Regions from separate parts of the Homo sapiens genome. Here region 1 is linked to region 2. The links come from fine-mapping of genetic effects on gene expression. Tissue or cell type: sigmoid colon. Region 2 holds a variant in brackets; the other region holds the start of a gene. All regions are shown on one strand. Distances are between the middles of the regions. Region 1 holds the start of DIRAS3 (DIRAS family GTPase 3). Region 2 overlaps GNG12-AS1 (GNG12, DIRAS3 and WLS antisense RNA 1).

What was found. PIP is the estimated chance that this variant, and not a neighbour inherited with it, causes the effect.
Region 1: DIRAS3 starts here. The variant in region 2 is fine-mapped to the expression of DIRAS3 in sigmoid colon (GTEx, PIP 0.91).

Annotation. Positions count from the first base shown.
Region 1 is chr1:68,045,128-68,055,812 of GRCh38, reverse strand. DIRAS3 (DIRAS family GTPase 3) reads left to right here and starts at 5,186. Exons shown (of 2, transcript NM_004675.5): 1 at 5,186-5,265; 2 at 8,451-9,851. The coding sequence starts at 8,516. The coding sequence ends at 9,205. All of the region lies in intron 2 of GNG12-AS1 (GNG12, DIRAS3 and WLS antisense RNA 1), which reads right to left. It also overlaps the pseudogene ARL5AP3.
Region 2 is chr1:68,113,715-68,121,714 of GRCh38, reverse strand. GNG12-AS1 (GNG12, DIRAS3 and WLS antisense RNA 1) reads right to left here. Exons shown (of 10, transcript NR_040077.1): 7 at 3,983-4,264; 8 at 474-590. It also overlaps a transcript of WLS not described here. Among named protein-coding and RNA genes, the nearest start is that of MIR1262, 66 kb to the left of the region's middle. RefSeq lists a silencer at 4,755-5,049. The variant G/T (reference allele first, on the strand shown) is at 4,112.

The DNA of each region.
Region 1 (10,685 bases), 67 kb after region 2:
GAAAGCCCTCTTCGGTGTGATTGTTTTTCATTATGGGAAGCTCATTCAGATAACGTGGAAGTTGAACCTGATGAAAAGGGAACTTGAATGTCATGAAACACAGGAAGAATATGTCCAAGGTTATAAGTATACACTATATTATAGAGGAATATAAACAAGAAAACTAGTACCTTGAGCAGGGAACTACATGGTTCTTAGTAACAGCATGCTGTTACTTACCACAGTAACTTTTCTGGTTATATGGAAAAATTCAGACATATCAAGAAAAGCCAAGAGCACAAAATTAAGTTATACTGGAGAAAAACGCTGCTTTTCTACGCCTTCAAGATAAATATTCTAATGTCAGGCCAAAACAGCAATGTTAGAACCAAAAAAAGCCAAAGAGGAGAATGATCATCTCAGGCCTTCTCCAGGGGAGAAAAAAATGAAGGAAATGACATATTGACCTGCAAATCATGTACAGCAAGAAACTGTAAAAGATGAACTTCTGCAATATGAATTTGAGAAATAAAAAAAAAAAAACAACTGTACCTCAAGGAATGAAATTACCACTTTAAATCAAGAAGACAACATTTTTAACCCAAAACTAGGAAAATTAAATAGATGTCAAGGAGAAGATACCTGTTTAAAAACAGAGTATAAATTTAAAAATCAAAACCCCTTAAAATTTTATTAAAATCAGATAATACTTCAAGAAATCTTGTTGTTTTAAATATAAGGAACCAGACTCTGGTTCTGTATCAGTGCCTGTCCCCTGGTCCCCTACCTGAGAACGTTTAATTTTTAGAAAAACACACAAACAATTTGTTTTTAATTCCAGCCAAGTCAATAACACATAAAACTTCTTTTATTAGCTCATCCTTTATTAGTCCTCTTCAACTTTAGACCTTTTATTTTCCTAACCCCTACCTCTTAGTCCTATAATTTTTCTTTTTTTAAAAATGTGGGATAACCAATCATTTTATCTTATCTGACTATGATACAGACATTTATTTTGTATATATGATTTAACATAAAATTTTAAGACTTTAAATTACATGAGTTCATTTATAAACATTTATTTCATTTACAGTTAATTTATTTTTTAACAATTATACCTATATTTCTTACAAAAATTGAGATATTAGATGGAGCTGGTCATTATTTCAAGTTTTTTTAAATTAAATAATTATATAGCCTGTTAACATGAGGTGTTTACCCACATAAGAGCCATAAAGTTAAATACATGGGTATCTGTAGATAACTCAGAAAATACAACTTTTGTTTTTTTCCTTACAGGCAAAGGCTCACTCTGTTGCCCAGGCTAGAGTGCAGTGGTGTGATCATAGCTCACTCTAGCCTTGAACTCTGGGCTCAAGGGATCCCCCCTCCTCAGCCTTAAGAGTAGCTGGGATCACAGGCACATGCCTGGCTAATTTTTAAATTTTTTTATGGAGATTGGGTCTTGTTATGTTACCCAGGCTGATCTCAAACTCCTGGGCTCAAGTGATCCTCCCACCTTGGCCTCTCCAAGTTTTAGCATTGCAGGTGGGAGTCACTACCCAGCCACAGCTGTTTTTGTTAAATAATATTAAATTAATCTTATTTATCAAAGAATTGCATAAATATATATCACTTTGCTTTAGGCCTGGTTTATAGCTTCATGACCTTAATAGCACAGGCAAATATAAAACTGACCAGTGCTGGTGCTCAGAAACTGATATGCCAAAACATGGTATTTGACACGCTAAACTAAAGAAGCCTCAAGGTCTCTCTGACTTTTCCTCCAACCCCACCATCCTTCCCAAAGAAGCTGAAGTTCCTTTATCTGCCTAACAACCAGACCCACCAAGGAGAGCAATTGTTGGTTCTCCTCCTCCTGTTATCTCATCTGTTAAAGAAAAGAAGACCAAAATGTAACCACACCCAAGCAGACCTTTATAGAAGTACAATGACTGCCTCCAAGGATTATTTAAATTCCAAAGAAAACTATTTACAAGTTAATATCTGTTGCTCAATCCAATCATTCTCTCACCAATCATTCATTGCCCCTCAATAAATTCCTCTTCTCCTCCCATAATCTGTTTTACCAGAATCCAAGCCCCCCATTCTTTCTGTAATTTCAAGACTAGTGTATAAACTTCTATAACTCATTGAGAAGTTGGGTCTTTATTCTGAAAGCTCCTGTGTATACACATTAAATACATTTGTATGTCTTTTCTCTTACTAATCAATGTGGCCCATGTCAGTGATTTTCCAGCAAATCTTTGGGGGGCTGAGAGCCATAGCCCCCACACCAGTAAACACAGGCAAAAATATATATTGACAATTAGAAAGACGTTTTTAATTTTATTTTATCAACAATTTTAAAACCAATTACTTTTTTAAAGATTAAGTTACATGAACTAAAAAAATTAGGTTAATTACTATGTTTTTGTGTGAGTGCCCATCTATTTAAACCAATCAGATTAACATTTCTTAAGGGATTTTTGGCCTACCACACTGAATTTTATTATGTAGACATAACATACAACATAATACATGTACATATGTGTAAATATATTTAAACAAATATACACATAAAGGTCTTCTAGCTTTTATTTTAGAATTTTAGTTGTGAGATAGTAAAACATATAAACTTGCTGGTTTATAGAGAACAGTTGGATCCAAATTATTTTTCTGGTAAAATGAGATAAAGGCTATGAATCAAATTTTGGTAAAACAGTTTGAGTTAATTACCAGTGCAGGGACCAAAGGGAAACTTCAGTGAAGGCTCACTGAAAAATCAACCTGCAAAAGGCAGATTAATTGGAGAAAAAGCATACAAATGTATTTAATATGTATACATGGGAGCCTGCAGAATGATGACCCAAGCATATAGAGGAAATTGTCTATTTTTAACTTAGGATTAATAAAATATAGACAGCAATGTAGAAATATGATTGGACAGAAAGAGTATGAGCTAATGCCAATAAAATGAGTGGGGAAACCCAGTGAAAAAAGCCAAACTCTGTAAAATATTTAGAGGTTTATTCTGAGCCAAATATGAGTGACCACGGCCTGTGACACAGCATCAGGAGGTCCTGAGAACATGTGTCCAAGGTGTTTGGACTATAGTTTTCTTTTATACATTTTAGGAAGACAGAAGATACAGGCAAAAACATCAGTCAATATATGTAAGGTATACATTGGTTTGACCTGGAAAGCCGGTACATTTTGGAGGAGGAGGGGTTTGGCCAGTGGTGGCAGGAGGGAGGTTGTGGAAGCCAGGGTTCTTGTTACATATGTGAAGCCTGTAATATGCTTCAGAAAGAATAGATGGCATATGTACCTCAAAAGGTAAATGACCTTAAACGGTGTCAGACTCTTAGTTAAATCTCTCCCGGATCAGAGAAAGACCTGGAAAGGGAAGGAGATTGTCCACAGAACACAAATTTCCCTCGCAAAAGATAGCTTTGCACAGGACCATTCCAAAATATGTCAGAAATATATTTTGGGGTAAAATACTTTGATCGCCCTTAGGGCTGCTACCTGTCATGTGATGCTATACCAGAATCAGGTTGGAATTTGTTTTGAGACAGGTTCTCACTTTGTTGCTCAGATTGGAGTACAGTGGCTGTGATCACGGCTCACTGCAGCCTCGATCTCCTTGATGTGGGAGGCTCAAGTGATCCTCCCACATCAGCCTCCCAAATAGCTGGGACTACAGGCGGCCACCACCACACTGGGCTAAATTTTTTTAAAGTAGAGACAAGTTCTCCCCATGTTGCCCAGGCTGGTCTCTAACTCCTGGCCTCAACCTCCTTATTCTCTAGGATTACAGGCGCCAGGCTAGACCTCACAGGTCTTTAGACTTCTACGCACCAGGTACCTGGTAGGGGGAGGGATTATAGTGGCAGAAGAGCAGTACCAGTGGCCCACACCACACACCCTGGCCTCAGCTGGCTGGGGCACACAAAACCAGGTGCTACCGTCAACGACTAGGCCCATAGGGTACTGCTGTCAAAACCTGCTGCCAACAACTTCCACACACTCCCCAAAACGCTCGGTAGGCGGTGGTGCGCAGCTTTCAATGCATCCGCCGCCAGGCGCTCACAGGCAAGGGAGAAAGAAGCCAGACGGAGCTCGGAGATGTGGAGGGCAGACGCAGGCGCATTTGGAAAAGGGACTGGCGGTGGGAGGCGCAGAGGGAAAAAGGAACGACACAATCGGGCTTCCTAGCCGCTGGCGGACCCGATGGGGCGTCCTGCGAGGGTTCGGCGAGGGTTCTGCCAGGATAGTAGCATTGCGCCCAAGGAGTGAGAGGCACCCGGGGCTACTGGAGCCAGACCCTCAACCCGCCCTAGTGGGAGGCGAAGAACAACGAAAGCCTCGTATTCCCATTTCTCTAATGGCTAATGACATTAAAGGTTTTCATATGGTTATTTGCCATCTGCATATCTTCAGTGAAGTGTCTGTTTATGTCTTCTGACTATTTTCTAATTGGATTTTTAAAAATAATTGATTTTTGAGTTATTTACATATTCTAGATACTGGTTGTATGCCAGATATATGGCTTGTAAATATTTTCTCCTAGGTAAACCTTTTCAGTATCGTTACAGGGTCTTTCACAAAGCAAAAGTTTTAAATTTATGGAGTCTAATTCATCAACATTTCTTTTTACCGGTCTTGCCACTAATGTCAATTTAAGAACCTTTTGCCTAGCCTTAGACAATAGTTTGTTGTTTTTTAAAACCGTTTTGTAATTTTACTCGTCACAGTTATATCTAGCCACTTAATTTTTATGTAAGGGTTATTTTTGGCGGGGGGGAATCTATAGATGTCCTGTCTTTTCAGTATCATTTGTGGAAAAGATTATCTGTCCTGCATTAAACTGCTTTTGGACTTTCGTCTAAAATCAGTTGGACCGGTTTTTGTTGGCAAAGTTTTGCCTGAAGCTTATTCCAACAGGTGAGAAAAAGTCCACAGTTTAACAGTTCCTCCCCAACCTGTAACCCCGCCTTGAACTTCTGGACTAGCCCCTCGATTGTTGTAGATGCCAAGCGGACCTCGCGCCGCTCTGCGTTGGGCCAGCCCCTCACAGCTGGTTTCTTACCACGTATTGCGCAAGCGGAATCTATGCCTGTTACCCACACTCCCTGCGCCCCCGCACCCCGCTCCTGTGCGCAAGTCGGAATATAAAACCGCGGAGGAGTGAGCTCTTGGGGTGTCCAGTTGGTTGCCGCGGCAGTCTCTCCGAGCAGCGCATTTGTCTTCTAGGCTGCTTGGTTCGTGCCTCCGAGAAAGGTAAGTCTTTCTTTCGCTTTTTTAGGGGTACTTGAAAACAACAAGTGTCAGACAAAGCAGCAGATGCTGTTGCGCAGTAGAAGTTTATGGGCGAGTTGTCCCTGAAACTGGAACCAGGTCTTTCTTGGCGCGATTACGCAAGAACCACCCGCAGCCCTGCGGGCTCCTGGCAGGTCCTGCAACTGCACTTTGGATAGTCCCGTTGGGAAGCTAGCACTTTTTAATATAGAAGAACGAGGTTTGATAAGTGTGCGAGCTTAAAGGTTGACACAGTGTCCACTATTACAGCTGCGTAGGTAGCTAGTGTTCAGGAAGTAATAGTGGAGTCATGTAGTGTGAAAGTAAGATTGAAATGGGCGAGGAGGGTAGCAGCCGCCACAGCCACCAGAGAGAAACCTGACCTTGCAGGTGCGTGGTGATGTCCATGAGCCAGGCTGGTGCCGCAACAGCAGCGGCGGGACCTTGAGCTCCGCACGGCCGCTGGGTTTGGACGCCCTCTGGTTCCTGGAAACTTTCACCTCCCCCTCAGCCTGAGGCCAGGTGGCCTGGGAAGGTGGAAGGAGTGTGGAGGGGAGTGGGGGGGGGGGTCCACTGCCTGAGAATGAGAATTCTCTTCACATCTGGAAACTTCAGTTATCACGTGTGTCCTTTACCAATTTTTTTTCTTTTATTTTCTTTTTGATAGAGACGGCGGTCTCCCTATGTTACCCAGGCTAGTCTTGAACTCCTGTGCTTAAGCGATCCTCCCACCTTGACTTCCCAAAGTGCTGGAATTACAGGCATGAGCCAATGCGCCCGGCTGCTTTACCAATTTTCTATGAATGAATTTGTACATACATCCCCTAGAGCAGGAAGTAATGTAAAACAGAATAATTAGTAATGCACATTTCCTAATGTGGGATGTTGGTGGCCAAGAGATATTTGGTCTTTACTGGAACTCTTGATACTAACATGGAGTTTATAATAGTTGTGGAGAGTGCAGACAAGGCTAGGATTTCTGTGACTAGAGAACTCTTAGTGCGTGAAGACCTAAGGAAAGCTGGATTGTTGATTTTTGTTAATAAATAAGATGTGAAAGATTGCATCACTGTAGCAGAAATCTCCTAGTTTTTTAAGCTAAATTCTATTAAAGGTCATCATTGCTAAAGGAATTGTGCCCAGGATTTGGATAGCTGATGTCATTACTTAATATTAGATGATATCAACTAACCACATCTCATAGACTGGAATAAAGTGCTAGATTTTACCTGAAAGCTGCAAAAATGAATGGTTTAGATATATGTATGTATTTATTTTATATCAATTTCAAATATTTACTGTATTAACCTCCCTGGCCCCCTTTAATCAAGAATATAAAATCATCTACTTAAATTTTGCCACTTAAGTTTAGAACACTCTTAGAATCACACTATCTTAAAGAAGCCAGACTAGAATTAGAAGCAAGTTAAGTCTGAAGATATAACAACCAGCAACAACATTTTTTTTTTTCAAATGAAAACTCTAATATGGGGTGGGTATGTTGTGTCACACCTGTAATCCCAACACTTTGGGAGGCTGATGCAGGAGGATCACTTGAACACAGGAGTTCAAGACCAGCCTGGACAACATAGCAAAACCCTGTCCCTACAAAAAATAAGAAAATTAGCTGGGCATGGTGTCACATGCCTGTAGTCCCAGCTACTCGGGAGGCTGAGGTGAGAGGATTGATTGATCCCAGGAGGTTGAGGCTGCAGTGAGTCATGATCGCATGACTGCACTCCAACCTGAGGGACAGAGCAAGACCCTGACTCAAAAAAAAAAAACAAAAAAAAAAAAACCACCACCAAAACTCTAATATGGACATATTACTCTCTCATGGGACTTGCACATTCTAAAAAGGGTCCTTTTCCCCAGTACTGGGAGAGTATGTGTTCAACTACGCAGCCAGCAAGACAGGCTAGTTTATATAGGGAGTGTGCTATTCACAAAAAGCCTCTCTTCTCTTTCTGGTATTGTACATGACACAATCATAGCTGTACCTGAAGAGAAGTGCATTTTAAGGACCATCATCACCTAGAAACATGTATAAATTTCTATACCTAGTGCCACAGGAATGACATTGCCTTGTACTATTCCTACCTCTGTCCAGAGGCCAGCTATGTGGTCTGTCTGCATGGTGCCTAGAACTTTTTCCATCTGACCTAGGATGCTTCTGAAGCAGTCCCCCTGGGCAGCTGTCTGGTATTTAGGATATACCTGTGAGAAAAGTTTCTTACAAACCTAATCTACTATGTTTATTCCTGAACTCAAAAAGTTCATTGACTGTTCAAATCCTGAAATTTTCTCTATTTCCATAAGGCTGAATTAAAAGTACTTTGTTAAAGGTAGTAGCCATGGCAAAAGAAAAACCACTGTTCTGTAGAAAAACTCATTCAATATTTACAATCTTTTCTAATCAGAGATTAGATCCTGAAGAGAAAGGTTCATATATATATATATATATATATATATATATATATTTTTTTTTTTTTTTTTTTTTTTTTTTTTTTACTCCACTGTCATTGTGACTAAGGATTCATGAACTAAGACCCCTCCCTCAGCTCTTGGTGGCACATGGTGACAGCATGCTCAGAGCAAAGGTGCTCCCCATGCCTCTTCTGGGGCTGCACTGACTGCAGGTACCTCCCCTCTCTACATCCCACACCACTGATACCAAAAACCCCCTCCTTTCTCCTGTACTGATGACTCTGTAGCTTTAACCAGGGCGGCGGTGTCACTCTAAATGTCACCTTGGCATTCAGCCCCATAGAGTGGGGAAAATTCCCTCACCTGTTTCTCTTTGACTGTTCAGTCCTCTTCAATTAAAATCTTAATTTTACAAGCGAGGAAATGAGAGTGTTTCTTGTAGGGGTGTAGTGAGAATTTAATAAAACAGTTTAAGGAAAGAAAACAAAAGGTAGTATTGCTGCACTTTCTAGATGGTAAAAAGCAAACCACCATGTCTGTTTAATATATATCACCTGCTGGTCCCTCGGTCTAGCAGGCTGAACTGTGTGCCTGGGAATTTTCTTCTCGCTGTGTGCACCCCTTTACGTCACAGGGTGGACTCTCTTCAGAGTCCTAGTGGAGCAGCTGGCCAGGCTGACATGATCTGACAACATTGTAGGTTACCACTACCATCTCTCACCGTCTCACTTTCTTCCTAGGGGTCTCCTGCTGCCAGCTAAGTGTGGGAGAACTTGTGCACGTATCTCCCCTCCGAATCCCAACGATGGGTAACGCCAGCTTTGGCTCCAAGGAACAGAAGCTGCTGAAGCGGTTGCGGCTTCTGCCCGCCCTGCTTATCCTCCGCGCCTTCAAGCCCCACAGGAAGATCAGAGATTACCGCGTCGTGGTAGTCGGCACCGCTGGTGTGGGGAAAAGTACGCTGCTGCACAAGTGGGCGAGCGGCAACTTCCGTCATGAGTACCTGCCGACCATTGAAAATACCTACTGCCAGTTGCTGGGCTGCAGCCACGGTGTGCTTTCCCTGCACATCACCGACAGCAAGAGTGGCGACGGCAACCGCGCTCTGCAGCGCCACGTTATAGCCCGGGGCCACGCCTTCGTCCTGGTCTACTCAGTCACCAAGAAGGAAACCCTGGAAGAGCTGAAGGCCTTCTATGAGCTGATCTGCAAGATCAAAGGTAACAACCTGCATAAGTTCCCCATCGTGCTGGTGGGCAATAAAAGTGATGACACCCACCGGGAGGTGGCCCTGAATGATGGTGCCACCTGTGCGATGGAGTGGAATTGCGCCTTCATGGAGATTTCAGCCAAGACCGATGTGAATGTGCAGGAGCTGTTCCACATGCTGCTGAATTACAAGAAAAAGCCCACCACCGGCCTCCAGGAGCCCGAGAAGAAATCCCAGATGCCCAACACCACTGAGAAGCTGCTTGACAAGTGCATAATCATGTGAGCCCTGGGCCTTAAGAGCCAGCTCTTCCTATCCTGTAGCGTGTAGAAAACGTGGACTCATTTCACTATGTTACATGTACATGGTTGATTTTGTGCTGTTGTTTGGACTGTAACATCCATGTTGTCAATACGTATACCTTGTAAGTGGATAACTTTTCTTTTTCCCAGGCCAGAGAATTCAAATTGTTAAAACATTGGCATTTGAAGAGGAGAACAAAATGTAGCATGATGTATTTAAAGTAAGGCCTTTAGTAATGAATGTAATGAGAGAAAATGTTTTGAAAAGAACAAAACATCAAAATGAATAGAAAGAAAAATTGGAAGGCGTCCTTTTGGTAACCCGATTATTGTGTATTACCTTTAAATATTTCACATCCTGTAAGTGCTTAATCATATCTTTTAATTGTGTATTTAAGAAAAGTGTTTTCACAACAAAAGCTTTTGATAAATTGCTGCGTGACATATACTAAATAAAAAAATGAATATGTTGATCATTAGGGGTGTGGGAGCAGAGAAAATTGTGAAAGTGACTCTCACTAAAGATGTTAGTAGTTTCTCATGTCATTTAAAAATGTTTGAGTATTCTGCATAGCAGTTTGTAAAAGTGTAACAGCTTATTGACTTAATAAAGCTTTTCCTGCATGCAATCAGCTGTAAGAATTTGTCTCACCAGAAAACAAAACATTGCCCATTGTATTAAAATTTAAACCATATCTGTTAAAAGTTTCCAATAAGAACTTCACACATGGATGTCCTTGCCATGTTGAAATTATCCAATATGGGAGGGGGGTGTTTTAGGGAGGTCTCTGCAATACAGAGCTGTTTTGTGTCTTTCCTGAACTGACATCCCGAAGAACTCCAGGCATCTTTGAGGAAGATGGTCACAGTGTTGCTGTCTCAGAGGAAGCGGGTGAAAAGCAAGCCTCTGCCTTCTGCCTCTTCCTATATTCTGAAATACTGGATATAGGCAATAGGGAGCAGAATGAAAGACAAGGGGAGGAATGATATTTGAGAGACTCCCCCATAAGGGAGTTTTTAAAGAGATTATATTTGAACATAATTTTTTGAGCGAGGGAATAAAGTATACATATCCTTGCTTTTGAGAGTTTTTTTTTTTTTTTTTAAATTGGGAGAGGTTCAGGGGAGGCTCTTAATCTAGTGATTTTTTTCCCCACAAAATATTATTGAACAAATATCTATTGAACAATGTATGTGTTTCTAGACGAGAAGCACATTGTTGAGAAGGAATCGTAAACATGATTTTTTTTTTTTTTTTTTGAGACGGAGTCTCTTTCGCCCAGGCTGGACTGCAGTGGCGCTGTCTCGGCTCACTACAAGCTCCGCCTCCCGGGTTCACGCCATTCTCCTGCCTCAGCCTCCGAGTAGCTGGGACTACAGGCGCCCGCCACCACTCCCGGCTAATTTTTTCTATTTTTAGTAGAGACGGGATTTCACCGTGTTAGCCAGGATGGTCTCGATCT
Region 2 (8,000 bases):
GCAGTTGGTCAGGCTCAATTTGCTGGTGTGTCCAGACATTCATGAGCCTGTACTTTGTCTTCTGTATTTCAAGGTCCTTTTTATCCTGTAGTGCTCCGGGAACCATCTGACTTCTGCAGGCTGTCTCTCCATCATGTTTTGATACGTGATTGATTTTGTTGCATGGGGATAACTTGGTTTCTGAGATGACATTAGCAGCCCCTTTTCTGCTGACATCGGGGGGCCTTCTAAGCATGTCTTGAAGTGTTCAGAGCTTCCTGTCTCCTGTGACAACACACTGATCTCTCAGGGAACAATGCCCTTCACTATTGAGACCAGACCTTTCCTTTGTGACTTTTCCTTATTTGGATTGATGGAACCCCTTTTTGTAGGGCCTGCCCCACTCAAGTCTTCCCTACCCCAGGCTCAGCATCTCAGCTCCTGAACCCCTCCTCCAGACATGGTTTCTAGAAAGTTCTCCCATTACTACTTACCTGTTAACTGCATCCTAGCTTCTCAGGGTTCCAAAATATGATGTTCAGATGGCAGGACTGCTCCAGCTGGCACAGATTAGTGTGAAAATGTCCCTTCCTGTACTAGGGCTTGATGTCCTAGGAAAATGGTACAGGATTTTTAAAAATACTCACTTCTTACTTTTTTGCTTCTCATGACCAAGCAACCACTAAATACTTAGTTTTAAAAATTTGTATTACCAATACCTTCTCTGTATTCAGCAATATTTTTGACTTAATGGTAGAACTTTACATATATCCCTGTTATGTATATTTTTTCCCATACACCAGTTAGGTTAAGGGACATCTTTAGCTTTTAAAAAAGTACAGTTCGAAATATAAAGTAAAAGCAGTTAAGTCTTTTCCAAGTACAAAGTGAATTGGTTCCAATTGCTAGAGAATTTACAAATATATATTCACCTGAGGCCAGAAAAAGCTCCTTTGGCCTAGGCCTCTCTCCTTTATCAAGCTCTCTCCATCACGAGTGTGCACATGTGCGCGCGCGCACACACACACACACACACACACAGAACTTAACAGCAGTGATGTGTGTTGTAATATGCAACTTTGTAAGTTACATATCACTCCCCAATACCACCTTCTCAGTCACGGAGTAGAGATCTTACTTCACAAGAAGTGAGACTCAGAGAGGTGAAGTGACCTGTGCAAGGTCACCTATTACAGTGCCAGAGTTGGAACTAAAGGAACTTCAGTCTGTGAACTTCAGTGTCTTTCCAGTAGCATATTTGCAGCAGAAGAGTCAAGAATGTTGTGAGCTGCAACTCTCACTAGAACCAAATGACCTTATTGGGAGATGTTAGTCCAGCCTTAAAAACAAGCTCTTCACCTCCATGAATGGCAAGTGTCTGCCCTCTTCAGGCCAAATCGAGAATGACATCTATAACTGAGCAAATCCTCAGAACCCAAGTCAGACCTTGGATTATTGCTTTTCAGTAAGTTCTGGTCCTGGCTGTGTCTCTAACTCTTGCTGTGGGACCCTCAGGGAAGCTACCCACCCCCTTCACCCCACCTGAATGAGATGATTTCTGAAGTCCTCAGCAGCCCTGATTCTAAGCCTCATAAGGAAGAGTAGGTGTTAATGGCATCCTAGGGCAATGGTAGGCGCCTGATGCAGATCTGCTGTGAGCCATGTGCTGGCATCACAGGGGTGGTTTATTAATTTCATTTATCATCTGGACAGCCCCTTCTTATAACGTACATCCTTGCCTCTTCTGAGGCTCTAAGATCCCCAAGGTGGCTCCTGTATCCAGAAACCCCTTGGCCTTCCCTCCCAGTTAAGCAAGATCTCTCTTCAACTCAGGGATGCTGAGAGATTGAAAGTGAACTACACACAGGAACAGCCAAGATAGGAGTTATTTCTATAGCACCATGCTTGGCTGATGTTCTTTACACGGAGTGGGCAGGATTTTTAAAACAGCGTTTGTGCCTTTTAGCCTGGGCTCCTCCTAAAAGCAGACTCTGGGACAAGGATTTGTGTGCAAGTAGCTGGCTTGAAAGGTGATTCCAGGAAGCACTGAGGTGGCATGGAGAAGCAAGGCTGAGAAGAAGGGAATGCAAAGAACAGCCACCAAGGTGCACGGCCAGGGCCTCTGTCAAGCTGTGAGGAACATGCTGCAGAGTTGTCCCCTGGGGCTGAGGAAGCTGTGAGAGAGAGCCACTCCACTCCCATCCTTTGTAGGTAGAGGGCCACCGCCAGGCTCTTAGCTACTTGGAACTAGGGCCAGCTTGAGGAATATGGGTGAGGCACCCATGGCCTCTGCTACATTGTTTTTAATCCAGTCTCAAAAACAAAATGGTCCTATCACAGAAACTCTGCAAAAATACATGAAAGAGTAAAGAAAAACATGTAAACATTTTACAATTACTCTATCCAAAGATAAATACTGTTAAAATGTCAGTATGTTCTTACACAAGTTTTTCCATGCATATATGTGTAGATTTATATACATTAAGATTGTATTATACATAGAAAATAAATTTCTGGACAGTTATATAACCTGCCCTTTTCAAAATATATCTAGGAAATCTTTCTATGTTATTGTGTTGTCTTCTATAACATGATTTTCATGACTTTACTATTATAGTCTCTAAAAAGGATGGTTCATAATTTTTACTGGACATTTCAGTGGTTTGCAAAGTTTGACTATTACAATATATGTTGAAATGAGCATCCTTGGATATAAATCTTTTTTGTACATCACTGATTGTTGCCTTAGTATCAATTCCTAAGAACTACTGGGTTAAAGATCAATTATTCATTCAATAAGCATATGTTGAACATCTAATATTGGGCCAGGTGCTTTTTTTTTTTTTTTTTTTTTTTTTTTGAGACAGAGTCTTGCTCGTCACCCAGGCTGGAATGCAGTGGCGTGATCTCGGCTCACTACAATCTCCACCTCCTGGGTTCAAAGTGATTCTCCTGCCTTAGCCTCCTGAGTAGCCTGGGATTACAGGCATCTGCCACCACGCCCAGCTAATTTTTTGTATTTTTAGTAGAGATGGGGTTTCACCATGTTGGCCAGGCTGGTCTCGAACTCCTGACCTTGTGATTTGCCCGTCTTGGCTTCCCAAAGTGTTGGGATTACAGGCGTGAGCCACCACAACCAGCCGGGCCAGGTGCTATTGTAAGCATTTGGGGCAGATCAGTAAACAATATCCCTATCATTGTGAAGTATATTGGTGTGGTAAAGGAAGGCGGGAGGGAGGAGGCAATAGATAGTAAGGTGATAGCGATGAAGGCTACACAGAAAAGCATTTATCATGGACACCTGTAAGCATACAGAGCCCTCCAGAACTGTGCCAACAGCAGAATGAGAGAGGCTGTGGCCCGCATCCTCACTGACACTACGTAGTTTTGAAATTTGCAACTTCAAGATGCAGAAATTGAATTTTGCATTTACTTCATTACCAGTAACACTGAGCATGTTTCATGTTCCTATGACTTGATATTTTTAGGTTGTCAGTTCAGATTCTTTATCCATTTTCTTGAGAGTCTGATTTAGTATATTTATCTTTTGTCTGTTACACGGGTAGCTCAACTTTTCTCCATTTGTCACTAGCTTTTATTTTGATTTGGATGTTTACCAGGATATAGAGCTTTTTTCTATGTAGTCAACCTGTACATTTTTTCTTTTATAGTTTCTAGTTTTGCTTTCATGCTTAAAGAAATATCCCCTAAGATAATAGGTCACCCACATTTTTTCTAGTTTTAAAAATTCTGTTTTTTTTTTCTCATCAATTCATATAGAATTTGTTTCCCAGCTGGAAGACCAATTAAATATTTTTTCCAGACAGTTATCCTAGCATGATTTTTTGGATCATAATTGGGAAGGACAGGATCTAGCAAGCTGGGGAGATCATGTCATTGGGTTACCCCCGGAGCAGTGGTGAGGCTTGGGTGTCAGAGCCATCCCATCCACAAGTGGTGCCAGAAGGCACCAACAAGACCCAGAAGCTCCCCGGGAACTCACCTCCGACTGCCAGTGAGGGTCCTGTCTGTGACAAAGAAATGTGCCATCGGGGGAAGATAAGCGTCCACTGCAGCACAGAGGAAACACGAGAGCTGCAGGCACGGGCTCAGTGAGCCGAGGAAGTCAGTG[G/T]CAGTGGCCGCCTGGCCAGGGTCCCTGGAGCTCCCAGGAAGCTGCCCTCCAAAGCAGTCTGCTCCTCTGTGCCACAGTGCAGAGGAAAGGTGTCTGGGGCCAGAAGCTGATGGCCGTATTGACTGGATGACAAACAGGGACCACACGAGCCTCCTGTTGGCAAAAGAGAACATGTGTGATGAGGCTGTATAATGGACAGCAGAAGGCCTTGGCTAGGGCTCTAACGTTACCCCTAATTGCTGTGTGTTCTTGGCCAAGCTATAGTACCTCTCTGGGTCTAGTTATCAAATTACATGTTGTTTAAAAAATTATACTAGGTTTAGCAGCATTCATTGGTTGGGAAGAATACTGTATAAGGATCCACTCTAGATGTCATGGTTTGCAGTACAAGCTGCAATTGTACAGATAAAGTTTGGGAGTGTGTACAGTATACTAGCTTGATGCAGAGGAGTGAGTGTGGGGGCAGGGGGAAATATGATTAGAGAAAACGGAGAAAGGAGGAAAAGCAGGGATAGAGGGAGGGAGGGAGGAAGGAAATTGAAAGTAAGTTGAGAAGAAATGGAACCAAGATTTTTTGTGAGTTGAATGCCTGACAATCATTCTAACCTGCACAAAGGTGAGTGGGAGGGGTCGGGGCCAGTCGTACAGGTTCATGGCAACCTTTTATTTCCCTAACTGGCTCAGGAGGGACAGTTCTGTTAGCCTTCAAAATTAAAACCACCCTTGTCCACAATTAATCAGTCCACAGCTATTTGCTGCCCTCTGCTGGCCAAGATAAACAATGGCTGCATTGCAAAAGAGTTTTTATCTTGAAAGAAATAGATTCATTCACCCAACAACTGTTTATAGAGCCCCTATTAAGTACCAGGCACTGTTCTAACACAGACCAATAACCAACATAGACAAAGACTCCTGCCTTCATGAGGCTTAACAACAATTAAAATATCTAGCATGTAGAATCCCTGCTATGGATGTGCCAGGTAGGATTTTAATCACTTGATATTTATCAACTTCTTTAATCCTTAAATGAATCCTATGAGGTAGGCACAATTGTTGGCACAGAGAGCTTGGGTGATTTCCCTAAGGTCACACAGCTAGGAAGTAACAGCCTGGTTCAACTCAGCCAATTTAGCTCCTGCTGCGCCTGTCACCAATGAGTTCTGATAGATGCATTGCCCTTCCTGCCCAAAATTTTGTATAGACGGAGCCATTATTAGATGGAAAAGCAAAAACACTGATCTTCTGGCTCAGCCACTGTGTGACCGTGAGCCTGGCCTTACCCCGTGTGGTTGTCAGAGGAGTCATCCATAAGAAGTGTATGCTTACACGGGCCCTGCTGATTGTTGTCCCTGTCCTCTTCCTCCCTCCCTGATGCTGGCCCTGGGTACAGGAGGGTCAAGGAAGCCAAAGGCGGCCTGAATCTCCGAGCTGCTGCTCCTGGTCCCTATTGTAAGGTCCTGTGAACCCTGCTTCTCCAGCTCAGCATTAATGGGGAGGGAGCAACCTGGAAGTTAATGAAGAAATGAGGGACTTCCCTGTTAGGGTGAGTGCTCTGGGACAAAGGGACAACCTACAGCAAGAGGAATTCAGGACAGCTGCAGGGGAGAGCTGGAAGCTCCCGACCAGGAGGTGCAGAGCTTGCCAGCCTCCAGGGTGAGACATACAAAAATGCCAACGACTGCTGCCAGGAGGGAGAGGGTGGAAGACTAGTGGAATAGAGCAGCAAGGGGGTCCTTGGAATTGCTTAGAAGCCCTTGATTGCTATTTGTTAATTTAAAACAAAAAAAAATTATGCCTAACCTCATACAAAAATTTTAACTTTATAAGAAGAGAAAAACATATTTTAAAGTCTCATTTGAAAATGCCTTCAGAAATTTGTTGATGTTTTTAAAAAGCAAATTTTAAAAAGTATTCCCCCCTCATAACAAATGTCCAAGCAACAACAAGAGTAATAGCGGCTCTTTACAAAGCACTGATAATGTGCTGGCACCTCACAGTAGTCCCATGATATAGGTACTTTCATTTATACCAATTACCAATGAGCATGCTGGAGCTCAGAGAGGTTGAGTGACTTGCCCTGTGTCACACAGCCAGCACTCAAGGCTGTGCCCGACTGACTTCATTATCACCACCCTATACTTTGTCTCAAAGGGAGGGAATGTTAAACTGAATGAATTGGCTCTAGGCCCCAGGGACTGCCTCGTGAAGAATGGCGAATTCCTAGTGTCATCCCAAGAAGCAGGGGCAATTTATCCTTGGGTTTGTCTGACCACACAGCAGAGGTTCCAGCTTCATTACTGGGGTTCTAGGCATGTGTGTTGGTGCAATCTGGAAGCAACAGATCTTCTTCGTGTCCCTGAGAGGGAGAGGGTTAAGCCACCTCTTGCATGATCTGGATTTGCCAGCCTGGAGCAGCCATAACCCTAAGGAGCCCCAGAGGGACCTCCTGAAAAGCAGTCATTGAGTTGAAACCCAAGGTGCAACCCATGACCGGGTGTGGTGGGGGGTGTATCATTATTTTCAAAGACTGAGACCCAGGGAAAGGCCTGTCACAGGCCACACAGTGGCTGCAGACCAGCATTATGAGAAGATCCCAGGCCTTATAATCCAAGCTTAGTCCTACCTGCAGTCCAGCACTGTGCTGAGCCTTCTACGACTGCCCCAGAGCAAACCAGGTGTCCCCTCCCAGGCCTACCACTGAGGTCACTCCAGCCTATACCTGCCCAATTAGGGCTGCTTCACACCTAAGTGGCACCCCCAGAGGGGGTTCTCTGTTCTTGCTTTACCCTATTCCAGAAGGAATAAGCCCATAGTATGATAACTGGCAGTTTTGCTAAGGCACAAATATGAATCTTGCCCACTTCTGGGACGGGGCTCTGAGCAAGTCTCTCAGCCTTCAGGGGCTGGCTCGAGGGATAAAGGGGACCAGTGGTCACTCCATCATCTGGCCAGTTTAGTCTGCACCAGTCAGATGCCTGTCACCTAGGTCTCAGAAGTCACATTTAGCATGAAACGGATTAAAACGAGGAGCCAGCTCTGTGCCTCAATTTCTTCATCTGCAGAAATGAGGATTATACCACTTAGCATTGCTGTTGGGAACATATGAATTAGGACAGTGCTTGGCATATAGTAAGTTTTAAAAAGGTATCTATCATTGTCTTTGCCATCATCATCATCATTATAGATTCTTGACACCTGTGGAATATATATAGCCCATGAAATGACAAATAAGGAATGCTTATATTGGCTCCTAAATTTCTCCAAATGACATATTTCAGCTATAGAATCCAGTGTTTTCTGTATATATCCTCCTTATGCCACAAGTTAACCAGTAGCTGGCAGTCTCCGAGTCCCTCTATCTTTCCAGCCTTCTGATCCTCACCCTATCCCAAGCTGAGACCTTGGCCCAGAGCCTCAGCCTGGCAGTAGGCATGATTCAGATTTGTTCCTCAGCAAAACTGCCAGTTATCACCCCATGGGCTCACTCCATCTGCAGTCATTGAAGCCAAGAAAGTTGAATCCGGGAATGCCAGAAGGTCCACTACTGGTTTCTCAAGGTGTGTTTCACAGGATGCTGGTTCTGTTGAGTGATTACAGTCGGTGATTTGTTGTTGAGCCATCAAATACAGTTGAGTAGCATTGGATTTTTAAGCATGTTTCTTTCTGAGGAGATCTCAGTCTTGAACACGCCACCTTTCTAAATCTGAGGCATGGGATGTACTCTTTCTCAAATGCACATTATCGTTCTGCTCCCTTTCACTGTAGGACAGCTTGTGGGATTTGCTGTCCTGTAGCAAGGCTTTTCAAGCCTTTCCCTGCGGACAGTTCACCTGGGAGCATATTGTAAAGTGCAGTTTCTTACTCAGAAGGGCTTGGGAAGGGCCTGAGA